Regions from separate parts of the Homo sapiens genome. Here region 2 is linked to region 1. Evidence: fine-mapped expression QTL. A gene starts in region 1. The other region holds a variant in brackets. All regions are shown on one strand. Distances are between the middles of the regions.

Evidence for each region.
Region 2: its variant is fine-mapped to the expression of GFOD1 in prefrontal cortex (ROSMAP, PIP 0.95).

Annotation. Positions count from the first base shown.
Region 1 is chr6:13,482,565-13,492,700 of GRCh38, forward strand. GFOD1 (Gfo/Idh/MocA-like oxidoreductase domain containing 1) reads right to left here and starts at 5,036. Exons shown (of 2, transcript NM_018988.4): 1 at 4,074-5,036. The coding sequence starts at 4,326. It overlaps GFOD1-AS1 (GFOD1 antisense RNA 1), which reads left to right and starts at 3,697. Exons shown (of 2, transcript NR_046709.1): 1 at 3,697-3,889; 2 at 4,117-4,207. RefSeq lists enhancers at 1,583-1,652, 4,288-4,397, 5,958-6,087 and silencers at 4,224-4,387, 4,528-5,007, 5,028-5,407, 5,788-5,897.
Region 2 is chr6:14,147,356-14,157,491 of GRCh38, forward strand. It overlaps the pseudogene RNU7-133P. Among named protein-coding and RNA genes, the nearest start is that of CD83, 35 kb to the left of the region's middle. The variant C/T (reference allele first, on the strand shown) is at 4,555.

The DNA.
Region 1 (10,136 bases):
AGGGAAACCCCATCTCTACTAAAAAATACAAAAATCAGCTGGGTGTGGTGGCACACACCTATAATCCCAGCTACTCAGGAGGCTGAAGCAGGAGAATCACTTGAACCCAGGAGGTGGAGGTTGCAGTGAGCCAAGATCGCACCATTGCACCCCAGCCTGGGCAACAGAGCGAGGCTCCGTCTCAAAAAATAAAATAAAATTAGATTAAATTAAATTAAATTCCCATACATATACTTGCCAGGATATACCTTGAAAAATATATATTATTTTTAATACTTTCACATTCAGAGTTTCACATATTTGTGTATCTCTATGTAAAATATATGCATATATTTTATGTTATATATACATCTATATATTAGTGTATATGTAAAATATATGTATATATTATGTGTTATATATACATATATATATGGCCTTGAATGGGAGACATAAACAACTGGTAATAATGATTGCCTCCTGTCCAAAGACAGGGACTAGGGGACATTCAGTCTTCACTGTGTACTTTTATAGCATTTGAAATTTGTACCACATGAATATATAGCCAATTCAAAATAACTAAATAAAATTTAAATGTTAAATGAATGCCTTAAAATAGGTGCTAGGCAAGATGGGGGCACACAGTGCTGAGACAACAGAAGGGTATGTAGGGTGGGGGGTTTGAGGGAGAGGAAGCGGTAACACTTGGGCTGAGTATTGAAGGGCGAACATGGAAGGAGACCTCAAGGGACAAGGAAGTTCCTGACAGAGACCTGGACATGTGCGCCAACAGGGCCCATTCAAGGAAACCCCAGCAGGGTGGGCTCGCTGAAGCCCTTGGGTTCGGGAATGGCCACCAGGACGTGAGGCTGGGCTCACTTCTTCAGGATGTGAGGCTGGGCATGTCACGCCAATCAGCTGGGGCTTTTCCTGAAAGGGGAAACGATGACATGACCAGGTCTCTAGCACTGCCAGATACTCCATACCTGGCAGCAGTGTAGATAGTGGCTAGAGGCAGGGTTGGGTGGGGTGGACTGGAACCTAGTTCAGAAACTACGAAAGGACCTGACTTCTATGGGGAACAGACACAGAGAGTTTCAGATGGCATCAAACAGGTTTGGGAACCGATTCCAGGGCTGGGATGGAATAAAGGACAACTCCAACAGTCTGACCTGGGCTGCCATGATCTATGGCAGAGGAACAGGTACAGCTGATGGAAGAGGAAGAAATGACTCCGGGGGAGGTAGAGTGCTGGGTTCAAATCTCTAGCTGTAGGTCTAGGAGCAAAGTGACTCAGGTCTCTGAATCTCAGTTGCTTCATTTGTGAAATGGAGCTAATATCTATCTTAGAGGATTATTTTAGTCATGAAATGAAATGCTTTATACACAGCACTTACCATGCTGCCTGGCATACAGTATGTACTTAATAAGAGGCAGCCTTGGACAGTGTAGAAAGTACACTTGGTAGAAATGCCTCTACAACAGAGGAATGCCTCATTCACAAAGGTAGGGATTTTGAGGAAATTTTTAAAAATTAAAGGAGGATGTGTGTGATTCAATTGATCTGAAGTTTCATTTCACTGTGGTCCCTAGACCACACTTTGTAGGGTCCCTACAAAGTAGGGTCCCTAGCCCCTTACTTTGACAGGCCTGTGACCAGTTATGAGTGTGGATCGAAGGCTACAGACCTGTCACCCTCACTGGGCAAGCAATTCAAAGTCCAGGCCTTTGCTAAAAGGACAATTTACCAGGATGAGTCAAAGTAGCTAGTTTCAATTCCAGGCAAACACTCGTATCTATACACTCCCAACAGCCAGATCAGCCTGATAACTGTTTGGGGTTTTTCACTTCCTACGTTCTATGTGTTGAACCTTCAACAGTGACTGTAAAGCAAACCAAGACGACCACCCCACTGTGCACTCGCAGGGGCACCCTGCAAAAGAAGGAGTTAAAAAAAGAAAGAAGAAAGAAGCTCAAAACCTACCCTAAAAACATGAACAAAACCCTATTCTGTCATCACCATTACTAAACTAGGTCTATTATGCCTCTTATCGCTGGTTTTGAAGAGGTAACAGACATGTCTTGTTAATTAAAGTCACAGGGATATTTGAAAAATAAGAACAGAAGAAGTATCCAGAAATGTCTAATTTGTGTCACATCTCTTGAAACCAGAGCCCCCAGACACTTTCATGGCCATGGTCCCAGAGACAGCCAGAAAACAAGGTCATCCTTGTTCCCCAAATTGCCACCCTCCTGCTCTAGGTTTGCTCTGTGGGTCTGAACCCAGGACAGGAACTGCCATCTTTATGGTGGAGAAACGATGTTAACAACATGGTCTTTCAGATATGACCAGTCCTAAGCTCTCCAGTATACGCAGGGCTCATCAGGGACCAGTTTTGTACAAATTGCACTAATAGAATTATACCATAAGATCGTTATAAGATATTTGATATGCAAAGAGCCAATGTAAACAAGGGAGTTATCCACCCAACATACATGTTCCATTAAACAGAAAATAAATATTAGCATTCAGTTCAATGGCATTCAGTTCAAGGCCAAAGAAACAGGCCACAAAGGGCAGACACTTAATAAAATTAACTGACAATTAAAACTGACAATGTGGGCAGCCTCCTTAGGAATTCTATCAGATGTTGCATCTGAGTCAATAGCCAAATGGCCTGATGAAAATGCCTTTCTATGGAGAAAGAGTTTTACATTCTGTTCATAGCTCTTCGAAGACAGAATTAAAACACACGTATATTTCACCTACCCTGAATCCATACCTATTTTTAACAAATAAAACAGTCTTTCCAAGACTACATAACTTCCGGCTGGTTTCTGGATGTTGTCTCTGTTCCTTCGCAGCTCCTCCCTTCTAATCTGTTCTACTATTCGCTTCATCTGGTTATAAGCTTTGTTCTTGTTATAAGCTTTGTGTTTTTCCTCACCAATAGAAACTTCAGCTTTCAAAGGTGAGCTGCTCATTTTCTTGGAATTGTAAGATCAAGCAACCTTCCTGGGATTGTTTTAGGTTACGTGCAAGAACTGATGATGAACAAAACATGCCCTTCTCTTTCCCCTGAGCATAGGCTGAGAGGCTGCTACTCTGTCCTCAGAGATTGTTCAGACTGCCTGGGAGTTGAGGGGAGCAGGGACCAGATGGTGAGGCACCCTGAACTCATCTCCAGCCCACGGGTCAACACTGTGCCTTCCGAAACTATTCCTGAAGGCGATTAGGGAGGGCCTTTTCTCATGCAAAGCATCCATGCCTCTGGAGCTACTGCGCCCATCCTCCTAAAAATTTAAAATCTATTACTCCAAATTGGGGCAGAAGACATTTCCCGGGAGGCTGCAGTCAAAAGTTAAAACCCCCTGGTTTTACCAAATCAGTCTTTACTAACCTATGACGCCTCTGAAAACATTCTAATACATCATCACCCCCATCCAACCACTCCCACCGTCCTTGCCTCCAGCGCAGACGAAATAATTCCAGCCGATGGTAACATCTGCAATCTCACGCTAAACTAACTCACAGCAGAAAGAAACAAACGACCCTAGCAGGGCGCCACCGCTGCTGAAGGGCAGGTCCTCTATCGCACCCAAGAAAACCCGACACACGTGTGCGGCCTTTTATTCAGGCGTTTCTGGGCGCGCACTCGCCTCTCCCAGGCGCGCGCGCGCACAACCCTCCTCCACCCCCCCATCCCCCCCCCCCACACACACACACTTGGACACTACACACACAGCTGAGGAGTAACTTTCCTCTTCTCGCGGAGCACCCTATCCCCTATTATCGGCATCTGATCTTCCTAGTTCGGATCCCCGGAACACACGCCTTCTCCAGCCTGCAATCTACACACGTGGGGAAGCGCGTCCAAGTGGTGCCAGGAGGCAGGAGGGAAGCGCAAAGGTGGGGAAGGCCGGGGACGAGGAAGGAGGGAGCTCTGAGTCGGATCTGGGATCTCAGATCCCCGGGGCAGCGTAGATGCAGGGTAAGCTTCTGGGATGCGGAGAGGGAAAGGCAGGGGGGAAGGAACCTAGAGAAGGTTAAAGGGCGGGGGTGGGACGGAGGATGCGGGGTAGGGGTCGCTCACCTAGGGTTTTGACAGCGATCTGTCTGGTGAGGGGCGGCGGCAGGTTAATGCACACCAAGTCCACGTCCTGATGCAGCAGCACCTCATCAATGCGGCTAGTGTAGAAGGGGACACTCATCTCCTTGGCCAGCTCCTCCGCTTCTTCCTGCGTGCGGCCCCACAGCGCCTTCACCGCGAAGCCCTCGTCTTTCAGCAGCGGGATGATGACACGGGCCGTGAGGCTGGTGCCGAACACGCCCACCCCGGGAAGCATGGCTGCTCAGAGCCGCCTGGTTCTGCTTCTGCTCGGATCTCCAGTCCAACGCGCGCACACACCCACCTCTAGCCAGTCCTGCACCCCGCTCCTGTAGCCAATCTAGCCGCGGTGCGCCAGCCGCCGTGCACCGGGCAAGGCGCCCGGGTGCCCAGAGCGCACCGAGCTGCAGGCGGAGCAAGCTCGGGGCGCCTCAGAACGGTGACTGCGGCAGTGTCCGCCACGCGGGGCTCGCGTCCTTCCCGGAGTCGGCGGCAGGGACCCCCCCAGGGCGCCGGAGGCTTCGAAGCCCCCTGGAGCCCCGGCTCAGGCTGCGCTCCCGCGGCAGCGCCAGTCCGCTGCGTGCGCCCCGCCAAGGCCGCTCCATGGCCGGCTCATCCCCGCGGCCGCGCCGCCGCAGCCCGGGACCGGCTCTCTCCCGCGTCGTTTGCGCAGCCGGCGAATCGCACAGACAAACGTCTACACCCTGCCAGAGCACGGAACCGCTCCGCGGGGGAGTCTCCTTTCTTCCTAGCTCTCCGTTGGGAATGAAATAATCCCGCGGCCGCCAGGAGGCCGGCTAAGGATGCGGCCCGGAGCGCGCCGGACTGGGATCCCGAGCTGCAGCGCGGCAGCGGCGGCCACGACCCGGCGCCAGCCTCCTCATTCTGCTGCCATGTTCGCTCGCCTCGCGGCTCGGGCGGCCTCGGCCCCAGGCCGGCTCAGGCTCTGGGATCCCGCGGGGACGAGGGCGGAGTTGGCGAGTTTGGCTGTCAGCGGCCGGTGTTCCTGCACCGCCCTCGCTGCAGCGCCGCGCGCCATTGGCCGCCGCGCGCCGCCCCCGCCCCCGCCGCCGCCAGCTCCGGGTGCGCGCTGCGCCCGGGCCCCGGGAGCCCAGCCCGGCTCCTCCCCGGCCCCGCCCAGGCCGCCTCGCCCGCCTCCTGCCCCTCCGCTTCTTCCCTTTCTTTGCCCTCACCATCTCCTTCTCTTCCCTGCTTCACTCCAAACCCCGCCCCAACCAAGCAAATACATCTATCTAGGCAGGACGCGCCCTAATAGGTTAGTCGCCTGTCCCTTGGAAGAGAGCAGTGGGCGCCTTGGCCTGGGGTAGGTGAGGGGACCCGGCGAGGTGCGAACAGCCGATAATAATAACCTCGGCTCCCGGAGCGTTTCTTGCGTGCTGAGCATCATACTAACGCCTTTCCAGGTATTGTCCCTTTTAGTCCTCGCAGCAACCTAAGGTTATTGTAAACCCATTTTACCAGTGATGTGAATGAGCCGCAATGAAGGCTAAGGGACTTGCGCAAGGTGACATATATAAGCAACAGGCCTGCGATTGGAATCCAGGCCCCAGAGTCTGGGCACGGAACCGCAGACTTCTACGGTCTCCTTCCAAGCTAGCCTGCTCCAATCGCGCGCCCCCGCTCCGGCCGCGCACGCACGGTTCAGCCGCCTTCTTCCAAGACAGTCCAGTCTTGGCGGGCTCCCATCTGCCTCCCACCTCCCCCGCCCCTAGGCCCATGCCCGCCCCCGCGTAGACGCTGTGGTGTGTACGGCCGCAGCGGGGCAGGGGGTCTCCGAGGCCGCTGCGGCACGTGCGTCTCGTGTCTAGTTTCGAGACGGATACGTCGCCCTGGCCACATGCCACGCCCGCCTCTTGCTTCGGCTCCTGTTGCCGTCGCCACTTACCGCAGCCTTTACTTCTCCCAGCTTGCCCCCACCTCCACCACCCTGCACCCTTCCCAGGCCCTCGAGGGGGCACTGAGGAGGACTGGCCAAGGCTGGCCCCGCACCTCTGGAGCCATGGGGACTCTGCGTCTGTCTGGTTTTCCGCCATATCCTTGGCACCTGGCACACTGCCTTGCCCTGTATGTAGTAGGCGCTCAATAAACATTTGCTAAATAAATGTATGCATATTCATCGAATGCCCGCTTCGCACCCATTTGGTGCCGGGAGAGGGGACTAAAAAGTGAAAGGCACGTCTTCTAGCTGAAGGTCTCTGGAGAGGTCATGGGTCAGGTCATGTTCATCTCCTGTCTTCAGCACTGGGCTCAATGTAGCACATGGTCTGCCGCAACACGAGTGGAAAACGTGATACTTGCAAGAGTTTAAAACAACTTGTAACAACTGGCAGTGAGGCGGGGCGCGTGGAGAGAGCAGGATACCAAAAAAGCTGTGTGTGGCAATGCGGGGTGGAGGCTGACCTAGGGCATTAGAAGAAAGGCACAAAGGACACAGTGCTGGGTGGCTGGCAGCAGCCTGGGGAGGACTGAGAGACAAAGAGGGGTGTTGCCCTCAATACTAACAGGCTTCTTTTGAGCAGGGGTTTTGTAAGAACCAAGGCAGGAACGCCTATCTGGGCACAGGGGCAGGCAGTGGTGTCAGACCCAAGGGGCTGGATACATCACAGGCTTGTCACATGTCAGAGATGGCCAGGCTTTCAGGGAGCAGAGGATGTGCAGTAGTGGTCGGAGCACAGCTAGAGCCACTGGCGTTGACTTCTGGCTCTGCCATTTACTAGCTGTGGGACCTTGAGCAAATCACTTCTCTGCGGCATAGTTTCATCTATAAAATGGGTGGGTAATAATGGTATATACCACAAGGGGTTTTACAGGATCGTATTCACTAATACTTACAAAGTCCTGAGAATAAGGCATGGTGCATAGTAAGTTCTATATAAATGTTAAATAAATAAATATAGAGAATGGGTCTGTTACCAATGTCATTTCTTGATGAGAGAGACCATTGTACAGTGAAGCAATATCTAAGTAATAAGATGGAGTTTTGTTTGTGTTCTTTTAAAAAGAACTCTACCCCTAGCTTGAGTGTGAATAAAAAATGGACCTTCTAAGCCTGCTGTGGTGGCTCACACCTATAATCCCACTGACTGGGGAGGCCTAACCAGGGGTATCGCTTAAGCCGGAAGTTCTAGACCAGCTTGGGCGACGTAGCAAGACCTCATTTCCTAAAAAATTTAAAAATTAGCTGGACATGGTGGTGTGTTGTGTGTCTGTAGTCCCAGCTACTTGGGAGACTGAGGTGGGATTGAGCCCAGGAGTTCAAGGCTGCAGTGGGCCTAGCCTTGATCATGCCACTGCACTCCAGCCTGGGTGACAGAGGGAGACCTTTTCTCTAAAAAAGAAAAGAGACCTTCTATCTATATAACATCAAAGAAAATGATCACATTTTATTCTCATTAAAATTTATAAATAAACATTATCTCCATTTCATAGAAGGCAAAACTATGTCCTGCTAGCAAGTCCAACTTAAAGGTTTAAAACAGAATACTTCATTTCCAACCTTACTCTCAAGCCATTCCTCCTTCATCAATAAATAAAATCACCAGTTCACCAGTTGGCCAAAAGCCATGGAGTCATCTGGTCCTCATATCCTTTATAGCCAACCATCAGCAAATCCTGTCTGCTCCACTTGCAGAATGCATCCAGAGTCTGCCCACCTCTCCCTGCCATGGTTGGGGAGTCAAAGTCACCATCATCACTATCAGGACCACTGTCCTTACTGGTCTACCTGCTTCCAGTGATGCCCCTCGTAGTCCATAGATCCCATAAAAGATAAGTTGAATCATCACCCGTCATGCTTGGCACCTGCCAGTGAATACCCTTCACACTTCAAATCAACTCCAAAGGCCTCAGCATGCCTGAAAGACTCTACCTGGCCTAACCCATAGGCCTATTGCATACCTCCCCATACCCTGCATTCCAGCACTCTGGCCTCTTTGCTGTGCTCTTTACAGGCTGAGTTTGTTCTTGCCCCAGGGCCTTTGCACTTGCTGTTTCATTTGCCTGACACCCCATTCCCCCCACCCCAACACACACACACATACACACACAAATCCACGGGGCTCTCTGCTCACTTTGCTCAAGCCTCTGCTCAGACTGCCTGGCCTGACCATCTCATCTAAAATGACAACTCTGTCATATTTCATCCCTTTGTCCAGCTTTATTTTTCTTTATACCTCCTGTCACTGCCTCACATTATATTATATGCCTGCCTATCTGTTTATCATTCATTTGCCTTGACAGGTTACAAATTCACTGAGATAAGAAGTTTGGGTGTCTCATTCACTTCTGAATCCCCAACACCTAAAATTGTACCTGGCACCTGCTAGATATTCAGTACCCATTTGTTGAATGAATGCTTGCACATTCCTCTAACAATCATGTGTTGTTATAAGTTAATATTTATAAAGTCATCAGAACCGTGCCAAGTGCCGTGTGCAAGAATGGCACATGCAATGGAGATGCACAGTGGAGTAGGACAGAGCCCCTGCCCCCAGGTTGCTTACGCCTGGTAGCCCATTGATTGATGACATGAATTGGCCATGGCAACACAACATGACGCACCCATAAGACTGGTCTGCATGGGTTGATTCGAGAGCAGAGGAGGGTTCTGAAATCTGAATGGGAAGACTGTGAAGACATGCACTGAGAGAAGTGGGCTGGGCCCAGGTTTTGAAAGACTTCCTGGAGTTAGCCAGAAGAAAGAGAGGAGAATAGTCTCGACAGAGAAAAGCTATGAACAGGCTAACTCAAGGTGGAAAGCTGTATGCGGAGGCCAGAACATGGTGGGGAGAATGAATAATTAGATTGGTGTTTTAGAGCCATTACTCAACTTCCAGTACAGAGGGTGTCTCGTGAGGGGCCACTGGACCCAGCCCTTCAGGGAGCCCACTGCAGTGACCCCAGAGTGAGGGAAAGAGGACTAAGAAAGGTGGCAGTTATGGGAATGAAGATACCAGCACAGAGATATCATGAGATAACAAAGAGATGAAGTCTCCTGGGCCTGGCAGCTAATTGGACATGGGAGGAGAGTAAAAAAATGTTGGCGTCATTTCTCAGCTTGAGGCTAGTGGAGAAGCTAGGCGTGCACTTGTGTCCTCACTAGTTAGGCAGGTCTTGCTTCATCCATCCTGGGCATGGGAGGATAACTCTGAGCATGCATCTATTCTGAGGTTCTGATGATAAAGACCTTTGCACACACAGTGCCTGTGCACATGGTCCCCACAGACGAGTCTTATTCTTCAAGTTCTTCATGTGAAACCCTCTTTTTTTAATTAATTAATTAATTTATTTATTTATTTATTTTGAGATGGAGTCTCCCTCTGTCACCCAGACTGGAGTGCAGTGGCACGATCTCAGCTCACTGCAAGCTCCACCTCCCGGGTTCACACCATTCTCCTGCCTCAGTCTCCCCAGTAGCTGGGACTACAGATGCCCGCCACCACACCCGGCTAAGTTTTTGTATTTTTAGTAGAGATGGGATTTCACTGTGTTAGCCAGAATGGTCTCAATCTCCTGACCTCATGATCCGCCCACCTCAGCCTCCCAAAGTGCTGGGATTACAGGCGTGAGCCATTGCGCCCGGCCCATGTGAAACCCTCTTAAACCGTGGATCCTGAATCCCAACCTGTAACACAACCTGAGGTTCTGACATTTTAAAACAGTTCTGAAAATAAGCCTAAAATTTTCTTTCCCTCCATCCATGATTTAGCTGCCAGCCTCTACTTTTTGCATTTGTGTGAAGATTTTAGGCCCAGTTGAATGTCACTGAAAATAAATGTCCAGCCTGGGCAACATAAAAAGATCCTGTCTTTACAAAAACTTTTTTCAAATTAGCCAGGAATGGTGTGCGTGCCTGTAGCCCCAGCTACTTGAGAGGCTGAGGGAGAAGGATTGCATAATCCCGGGAGTTGAAAGTTGCAGGAGCTATGATTGACTGCACTCCAGCTTGGGAGACAGAGCAAGACCCTGTCTCAAATGATAATAATAGTAATAATAAAATGAAATAAAATAAATGAAATAATTGTATTC
Region 2 (10,136 bases), 660 kb after region 1:
TCATCATGGATTTTTCTATGTTCATTTTAATTTTTGCAATATTGGAAATATTCTAAACATTTAGAAATATTGGAAATATTTTATATCTTGATCGCTGAGTTTTCTGGGATCCCCTCATGGTTTGCATCCCAGGTGAATTGCCTCTTCCTAGTCCCAGCCCCCTTTAAACCTTGCCTGAGTCAGGGGTAGGACTGATTTGAGACTGGCCAAAGACACTAGCTCCGTTATTTCCCACTAGTCGAAAGGCGTTGTTGAACTATTCCTCTAGTTAGTAACTGTTAAAGCCCAGATGGCATTCATATTTTGGCCTTTGCTCTGTCACAGCTCAAGTCATCGTCAGTGCCAAGTAGAAGAAGTAAAGGAGGCTTAGTTCTCTTGGGGGGAGTGCCAATTTTGTAGACCTTGATGGTCCAAGAACTGCCCAGGCCATGAGAAGATACAATGAGGGCTGTGGTAGAAGCACAAGTTTAATTTTGATGCCCAGCCCTAGCTGACGAGGTTTGTAGAGGAGCCTCAACCTCGTCTCCCACCTTGTCCAGCTCATAGCACACACTTGGCTGTGCACCCAGCGTACCCCCACATTCCCACCGTACGTGAATCATCATCCCCAGTGTGTCCCCCAGTGACAGGCTGCACAGGTGTGATATTCATAGCTGCCGTTTGAGGATGTAGACGGGTGACTGCTGGTGTTTCTGGAAAAGCCAGCTATTTCGTAATTGTAAAATTGACCTCTACTCCACAGCTTCACTGCACACTGGAGTATTTCCTGGCAGATCCATCTAACCCAAAATGAGATTACATTTCCTGGCAAGAAGTGGGCAACTGGTTTAAAATCTCACAGCAACCGCATGGCTCAACTTGCAATATTTCTTTACATTCACTTACCCAGGTCTTTCTGGGTCTATTAACTGGCAAGGTTAAAGGGGCAACATTGGGAGCTTGGGGTCCTACCTTTTGAACCAAGAGGTCAGTGAGAGACGGCCTGACTCTGTTAGTTTTAACTTTTCCTCTCAAACCTATTCTCCCTCCCCCATATGCCTTTCTTCAGGAGCTGTCGTCCTCACCTGGACCCAACCAGTCATTCCCAGTGTTACCTCCTTCATTATTTAGAGCCCCTCTGCTGCCAGAGCGATCCTGTTCCAGTGCTGGTTTGGCCATGCCATTTCACTTTTTTAGAGCCTTCTGGTCTCCCACCCTCACTGGAATTCTGCCCACCTCCCTGCTCAGGGCTCATGCTCTCCCTGCCTGGTTGTTTGCAGTTCAGTCTCAGCCTCTGCGGCTTTGCACACATCATACCTCCAGTCTCGCTCCAGTCTCCTGCCTGGGGGTGACTGCCTGAGCTCTGCCCAGGCAGCATGGTGGTGGGGTCTTAGGGTCCAGCATCTGGGCTTTTTACTCCTTGCCCTGATGTCAGCGGGGCACCAGCCCCTGCCCTCTGACCTGCCTGGTAGCCTCGAGCCTGGAGCTTGTCCATGTCATCCCCCAAATAAGACCCCTGCATATCCTGGTGGCAGTGGGCATGGGGACCAGTTACCCCACTGGACAAGTTGGGAAGTCTTACTGCCTCTTTTGTGACATCTAATCAATCTTCCTGATTGATTCAATGCCCTGTCTCCCACCTTCAATGACACTCTAGCGGGGCCTGTAATTCGTGAATCTGTCTGGGGTTCTAGAGAGCAGATGAGCTTATTTAGCATCGGTAACCCCTTTGCTGCAAGCACTCACAACTCTCTCAGTTTTGCTAACATCCTTGTTCTGACTTCATTTTTCTCTTCTGTAAAATGATAAAAAATTTTACATTATTTTCAGTTCTGTTAAAGGAGTGGAATGAGCTAATCTCTCAGGTGACTTTTAAGCCCAGGATTATTTTATGATTAGTCAAGGAACTTAGGTTTGGGGAAGTGTTGCGTTAAGTTTCTCTTTCTTTTTTAGTTGACTTTGGTCAGAGAGGGATCGGGGATTGTTGGCACAAGGAAAAACTGGCAAATTAAGGTACATTTATTTTTAGGTTAAAGTCAAATGTTGGTTGTACGTATTAATCTTTTTTATGATTCTCCATGTTAATAGGCATTTTAATTAGTTGACTAATGACAATGATAGTGTGTTGGATAAGAAGCTTTGTGAAAGGAAGCAACCAGGGATTGACACTAGAGAACAGAAGGACCCACTTAACAAGGCGTGAGTGATGTCACCCTCTTGTGGAGGCAGTAACCACATTACCTGCATCTCCTCCGTGACTTGGTAGGTAATGGTGTAAGGTTCAGGGACAGATGTTATTTGGACCAATTAAATAGCTTAGAATCCTTAAAAAAGACCAAGTTTTCATTATGCTTTCCAAGAGTGGACTGTAATTTTTATTTAAGTACACACAAACCACAGAAGTCTGAACTGTACTACTAGTCAATGTATGTAACTGTTCTTTGGCAAATGGGACATCGCCCTAAATTGCTACTTAGGGGGCCATGTGCAGCCACTGCTGGCAGCAACAAGTCACCGGGCAGCGCTTTCCTGGCAAGCGGGGAAGGGATCTTAGCACTGCAATGATTTTGGAAAGGAAAATGAGCAGATGTGCCCCCGCCTGACTCCCCGCTTGCCTTGGGACTCATTTGCACATTCTAGGGGCTTGGATACCCTAAGGCACACAGTTGCTTTTGGTTAATTGTTATTACTGCATGTGTAAGGAGAACTCTGGGTAAAATTGCCAAGCCTTGCGCCTGGCCCCAAACTGGAAAAATCTTTCAAACAGAAAATGAAGTTTAGTTTGGCAGCCTCATAGATCATTAGCCTGAAAATGTACACTTGGCCTGGCTGGTAGGTTGGAGGAAAGGAAACAGGACTATGCAGGGTTTGCATGCTCTGCCCAATGAGGCCAGCCTCCTGGCCCATGGGCCCCATAGAACCCAGGCCTGACCGAATCTCTGCTTGGGACCAGGTGTTCCTACCCTATCGTTTTGCTGTCAGGGGAAGGGCTGGTCCTCCCTGGTGGTATCTCATTTGCCCAGCATGAGCATTATGCTCTGTTGGATGGTACACTTTGTCTATTCGGTTCATGCTCCTCCCATGGCTGTGCCAGCTCCACCTGACTGCCTCGTTGCCCATGACCTTGGCCTCCCTTCTGACTCTTACTACCCCTACACAATCAACACCAGGACATTGAACATGGACACAGCTGTGGTTTCTTCTTCCATCTGAGGCCCTCCTTCACAAGCCTGGGACCCTGGAGGATTTTATCTGATTTGTTGCACAGCTCTCATGCATGCAGTTAACCTAATTTCTGACGTGGCTCAATTTCATCCCATGTGGAAGGAAATGTGCCAATCTTTGGACCTCCACAGCTAGGTTTGGGAGCATGTTGATATCACTGATGATGTGTGGGTTACTCAGATTTATGTGGCAAGTTTGCTTGGTAAGCCAAACCATTGGGGGCACAACCCCCTGCTCTTTCCAAACTGTGACCAAAACTATCTGCATCTCAAGGTGTTCTTTGAGCAGAGGTTATCTACTCAAGCGAGGGTTCATGCAAACAAAAGTGTCAGTCACAATGTTGACTCTGTATGAGGGAAGGGGGGAAGTAGGGGGAGATGCTGGGGTCTTGGGGGCAGAGCAGATGGGGACTGACAGCCTGAAGGATAAGAAAGGAGAAGGGAGGATTCCAAAGAGTCAAAACAGACTATTCAAAAATCGATTTCTTGGATTTTGTGTTGCCATAGCTCAAAGGGGAGCTGAAAAAAGTGGATGAGGGGTGGCCATGCCTTTGGGGTCAAATATGTGGAGTCTGAATCCTAACTGTGCTGGTCACTTACTTTGAGATATGACTCTGTACCTCAGTTTCTTCTGTTGTTGCCACCATGAAGACTAAACAACCCATCCTCACGTTTGCTCACTGGCACTTCTGGGAGTCTGTTTCAAGGCGTGGAGTGGGCATCATTGCAAGATCATGATGACAAGAGTTTGAGTCCAGGGTTGTGTGAGCTCACTGCAGTCCCTGGAGGGGAGATGCTAGGACTTCAGCAGGCACAGGAGAAGGGCATCATGTGCCTATGGACTGGAACAAATAGAGCATGAGCAAGTAATTTAAGAGAAAATAACTTAGGAGGAAATCCAAGTCGAAGCCAGGCAGGCTATCTTTTTCTTTCCCTTCCTTCCTTCCTTCCTTCCTTCCTTCCTTCCTTCCTTCCTTCCTTCCTTCCTTCCCTCCTTCCTTTTTTTTGAAAAGGAGTTTTGCTCTTGTTGCCCAGGCTGGAGTGCAATGGCATGATCTTGGCTCACCACAACCTCCGCCTCCCGGGTTCAAGCAATTCTCCTGCCTCAGCCTTCCAAGTAGCTGGGATTACAGGCATGCACCACCATGCCTGGCTAGTTTTGTATTTTTAGTAGAGACGGGGTTTCTCCCTGTTGGTCAGGCTGGTCTCAAACTCCTGACCTCAGATCTACCCACCTTGGCCTACCAAAGTGCTGGGATTACAGGCATAAGCCACCGTGCCCAGCCCAGGCAGGCTGTCTTAAGGAGCAGAGTATATTGTGTTTACTGGATCTTTCCAAATAGGGCCCCAG[C/T]AGCTAGACACTGAATGCAGATGCCCTCTGAGCAATGAATAATGGAGCACCACACTTGGATCTGGGCATTTAAACATTTATTAATACAGGACATTCCCCCTCCTCCTCCCCCTTCTCCTCTTCCTCCTCCTCCTCCTCTTCCTCCTCCTCCTTCTTCTTCTTCCTCCTCCTCCTTCCTTCTTCCTCTTCCTTCTTCCTATTCCTCCTCCTTTTCCTCCTGCTTCTGCTTCTTCTCTCTGTCTTCTTTCTTTTTTTTCTTCTTTTTCTTCAGCAATTGCCTTATTCTTTGGGATCAAATTGGTTAGAGATTATTTAAAGCTATATATGAACATATAATTGGCCACTTCTTCCTGATGTGGTAGTTGTGTGTTTGAATTTAATAATTCTAAATACAATATTTTATATTCAGCCCCACTAAATTTAATCTTGTTTGTTTTGATCTCTTGTTCCAACTTGCCAAGATCGTTTTGAGACTCAGCTCTGTCTTCCAATATATTATGTCACCCCCAGCTTCAAATTTGATATTCATGTTTGATAAACTTTAATTAACATAAATGTTGAAAAGATAAGGTTGGGATCTTCTACAAAATCTGTAGCATTCCATTAGATATCTTCCAGTTTAATATCAATCCTGTAATCCAATCTCTTTGGGTAATTGCAACCAGCCAGCTATTGATCATCTCACACAATATGTGGGATACACAATCTACTCCTCTTTAATGGTAACGGGCATGCTGCGTAGGCCAAGCCTTTACCTTCCATCCTGTCTGCACCGCATCCCTTCCAAGGGAAGCTTCTTTACCTAACCTCCTTCTCAGGCAGCCTGGGTTTATATTCTGTCATCACACCCCCTTGCTAGCTAACCCTGACTCCACAGCAATAATCCTATTAACTTTGGCCTAATGTAAAAAAACTGGATCAATCATATCCTCTAATTTTAAAATCTGAACTAGGAAAATAAAAAGAATTTTGTAATTTGCAAGTGATCGGGAAGTGAATGGATATTGTGGGGTTAAGGTGGGGCTGAGGCAAGCCAAGGCTTCTTTCTTTCTGGAGAGAGACAGACAGAGATAAGGAGGAGGTTTTGGGCTTCTTTTGTATCTTAGATTACCCTGAGAATCTTACAAAAGCTACAGACTCCCCTTGCAGAGAAATGCATAAATGAACAATTTGCTTACAGTTTTAAGATGTTTATAGACCTTCCAAATTTTGGAGAAATTGGCCCTAGAGAAGAGATAATAAAGTCAATACTGTGAAAATGAAGAGGATATACAGAAATAAATAGGGTTGGAGAGAGATGGATACCCCCAGACCTGCCTCATTTGCTGAGGTCTCCGGGTCTGATCCAGACCCTTCCACAAAACCTCCCTTCTCTTGAGATAAATTGAACGAGTCCCAGTTACTGCAGCTAAAGGTGCCTGCCTGAAATAATCAGGTCAACATCTACTCAGTCATTGGAGTCCTAAACCCTAGAGTCCTATCTCTAACTCCAGACATCACTTTCCAAAGCTCTGTGCTTGCCCCATGACCCTTCTTACTGTGCTGATATTCTGGGGTGAACCCATCCCTCTGTATCATTTATTTGCCTGTATCCTAATGATTTCTATACCCCTAGCCCAGAATGCTCCCCAAACCTTGGACTCAAGTATCCAACCACCAGCTGAACATCTCTACTTGGTTGTCCCATAAATAATATAAATGCAACATGTTCGAAACTGAACTCATAGCTTCCTTACAGACAACAAAAGAAATAAGCAACAATTTAAAAAGGCTCACACAACGGGTCTTCTCTATATATGCTTTGTGTGTTTGTTTGTTTGTTTTGTCAACAGTATCCATTCCAAGAAACCTAAGAAACATCACAGAAACCCTTCCCTCACCTAACCTCAGTCCAATCAATCACTCCGTTTTGCCCATTCTATCCTTTGGAGAGTTCTCATACCTGTGTGTTTCTTTCTCCCCACTACCACGATCCTTATTCCACCATCCTCATCCATCACCTGGATGAGGTTTGTTGCAAAATAAAACCCTAATTAGTCTCCCTGTCTCCAATCTTGACCACTCCAATCTGTCTTCCAGCTGCAGCCACATGCTCAGTTTAAGTTACAAATCTAAGACACTCCCATTTAAGGCTCTTTGGTAGTTCCAAGTAATCTATGAGATAACGTCCACAAGTCCTGTAAGACATAGGGACCTCCAAGACCTGCCTCCTGCTTATTGTCCATCAGGCCCCATCTCCTGTCTCTCCCTACCTGACGCTTTATGGCTCCAGCCAACTGACCTTCTCACATTTCCGGCCCAGACCATCCTATTTCCTGTCCCAAGACTCTGCTGGGGATATCCTTCTACAGGTGGAAGTTTTCAGGTTCCTGTTCAGCTGAATTCCTTTGGAGGTGGGGGTGTTTTGGAAAACTACATACATATATACAAAGTTACTGATGCTGTCATAAAGAAATGAGGAAGAATTGTACATCACAGACCATATGGCCAAGCATAAAACCCCCTTTGAAGATACCTAATTTATGGAATTTATCTAGTGTTTACTGTCTAAGGTGCCCAGCGTTCGTCTGATGGTCTCTTCATGGCTCCTTTATACTCCAGTTGACTTTTACCCTGCAACCTCGTCAGCAATGCTGTCCAGCCTTTCCCTTCTCTTGTATTTCTCTTTGTCCACTCTAGATTTTCTTTTTAAAAGTATAGTTTTCTTTTGAATTTTTCTACCAGCATCCTTCAGCTTAGCACTCCATTAGCAGAAGCAACATTTCTCCAGGGATGTGTCTTTGTTGGAAGGCAAGGTGAATCTGAAATAATACGTGAATTTTAACTAATAAGTGAACTTTGAAGAATATATAAATTTTTAAATAACAGTTTTTTTGGTTACAAAAATTTCTGCTCAATGAAAAAATGTTAGAAATCACACAGAATTATAAAGGGGGTTATAACAATTACCACATTGCTAACTACCACCGGCATAACATATAACATATTTCTCTCTTTCTCTCTCTCTTTCTCTCTCTCTCTCTCTCCCTCCCTCCCTGTCTGCCTCTATCCCTCTCTTTCTGGTTGGGTTTGAATCCCCACAAGAAACCAGGAGGAATCTCTCCTAGGACCTCCTGGAATGCTGAAATCAAGTCTAACTTGCAAAAAATTCTGATGACAGTTGAATGTTTTCTTTTCTTTTGACAGAAGTAAACTGCCACAACTTGGAAACCCAGTGGTACTCATTCCCTTGTTTTTAAAAAATTGATGGATTAAATATTGAATAGGTGATATATTCATGGGGTTCAGAATTTTAGGAGTATAAAAACTGGTCTTAAATATGTCTGCAAATTCTTTGACCCTCTTCCCATCAAAGACAGAGTCTAATTTCTCTCCCCTTGAATATGGCTTGCTCTTAGTGACACAGTTTCTTGAGTATCCATCCAGAGATTTTTATGCACTTGAAAAAGATATATATTCTTTTCTCTCCTTTTCACTCGTTGTTTCATATCTTTTTTTTTTTTCAGCTAGCAGCATATATTGGAGATCTTTTGTTCTTTTTTACACCTTAATAATATTTCCTTGTCCAGGTCCCTTTTTAATGGACATTTAGGTAGTTTCCAATCTTTCTCTCTTACGTTGTTGCAACAGATAATCTTGTACATACATCATTTTGCATATGTGTGGGTACAACTGTAGGATAAAGACTGTGAAATGAATTGCCAGGTCAAAGGGTAGGCACATTTGTAATTTTAATAGATATTGCCATATTGACCTTTGCGTCCATCCAATTTATTTCCCCTCCAGTGATAAATGAGTTCCCTTTACTCCAGGCCTCACCAACTGAGTATGTTATCGGGGTTTTGGATCTTTGCCAATTTCAGCAGCAAATAATTGTATTTCAGGGTAGTTTTAACTTGTATTTTTTTGTGAGTGCTGTGAACATTTTTCATATTTTAAAGAGCCTTATTATATTTACTTTTCTATGAACTGTTTATATCCTTTACTCATTTTTAAATGGATTAACCATCTTAAAAAATTAATTTGCATGAAAACATGCATGGTGGGGAAATTAGGTCTTTGTCTGTGATGGAGGAAGTAGATATTTTCCTGATTTGTCATTTGTCTTTTTGACTTTGCTTGTAATGTTTATTGCATAGAGAATTTTCATTTTATGTTTTCATGATAGAATTTTATTAACCTATTCTTTTATAATGTCTGAATCTTATGTTGGATAAGTTGTTCCCATCTCAACTTATTAAATATCCTCTCATGCTTTCTTCTACTATTTTGGGGTTTTGATTTCTTACATTTGGAATTTATCCAGGTGTAAGGTGTGAGGCACGGATCCAACTTTATCTTTTCAAGATGGCTTCTTCTGTGTTGATTCAACACCACCGATCAAATAATCCACTTTCTCTTTACTCAATTGGGATGGCATCTATATAATGTATTACATTCCCAGATGTGTTTCAGTTTATTTCTGGATTCTTTATTTTGTTCCATAGACGTGTCTGTCTGTTCTGAGGCAGTACCATACTGTTTAGTTACTGCCATTGTAGAATATAGAGTTGAGTGTGACAGCTCTTTTAGAATTTATCTAACAGGGTTTCCAGTTTTCACTGTATACCATCCTTGCCCCTCAAAAAGAGTATGTATGGTGGGCCCTCTGTATCCACAGATTCTGCATCTGCAGATTCAACCAACCTCATTGAAAACATTCAGGAAAAAAACACAATAAAAATAACAATACAATGATGAAAAATATACAAATTTTAAAAACAATACAACAACTAATTACGTAACATTTACATTGTATTAGTATTATAAGTAAGCTAGAGATGATTTAAAGTATATAGGAGGATGTGCATAGGTTATACGTAAATATGGCACCGTTTTATATCAGGACCTGAGCATCTGTGGATTTTAATATCTATGGGAGTCTTGGAACCAATCCCCCATGGACACTGAGGGACTGCTGTATTTTAATATCTGGTATATATATTCCCCATTCATTGTTCTTCTTATTCACATTTTCTGAAATAAATCTTGTTTATTGGCCCATATGAAATTTTGAATCACTACGTCTGCATTTTTAGAAATGCACATCTGAGGTACATGTTTACCAATACCTTTAAAGCTTGGATCCTGTGGCTCCTTCCTTCCTTCCTTCCTTCCTTCCTTCCTTCCTTCCTTCCTTCCTTCCTTCCTTCTTTCCTTCCTTCCTTCCTTCCTTCCCTCCTTCCTTCCCTCCTTCCTTCCTTCCTTCTCTCTCTCTCCCTCTCTCTCTCCTTCTTTCTTCTTTCTGAAAGGGTCTTGCTCTGTCCCCCAAGCTGGAGTGCAGTGGTGCAACCTTGGCTCATTGCACCCTCAGTCGCCAGGGCTCAAGTGATCCTCCCACTTCAGCCCCTCAAGTAGCTGGAACCACAGGTGCATGCCACCATACCTGGCTAATTTTTTGTAGAAATAGGGTCTCCTGGTGTTGTCCAGGCTTGTCTCCAACTCCTGGGCTCAAGCAATCCTCCCAACTCAGCCTCCCAAAGTGCTGGGATTACAGGTGTGAGCCACCATGACTGGCCTGGCCACTTTCTTCCAAAGGTTTT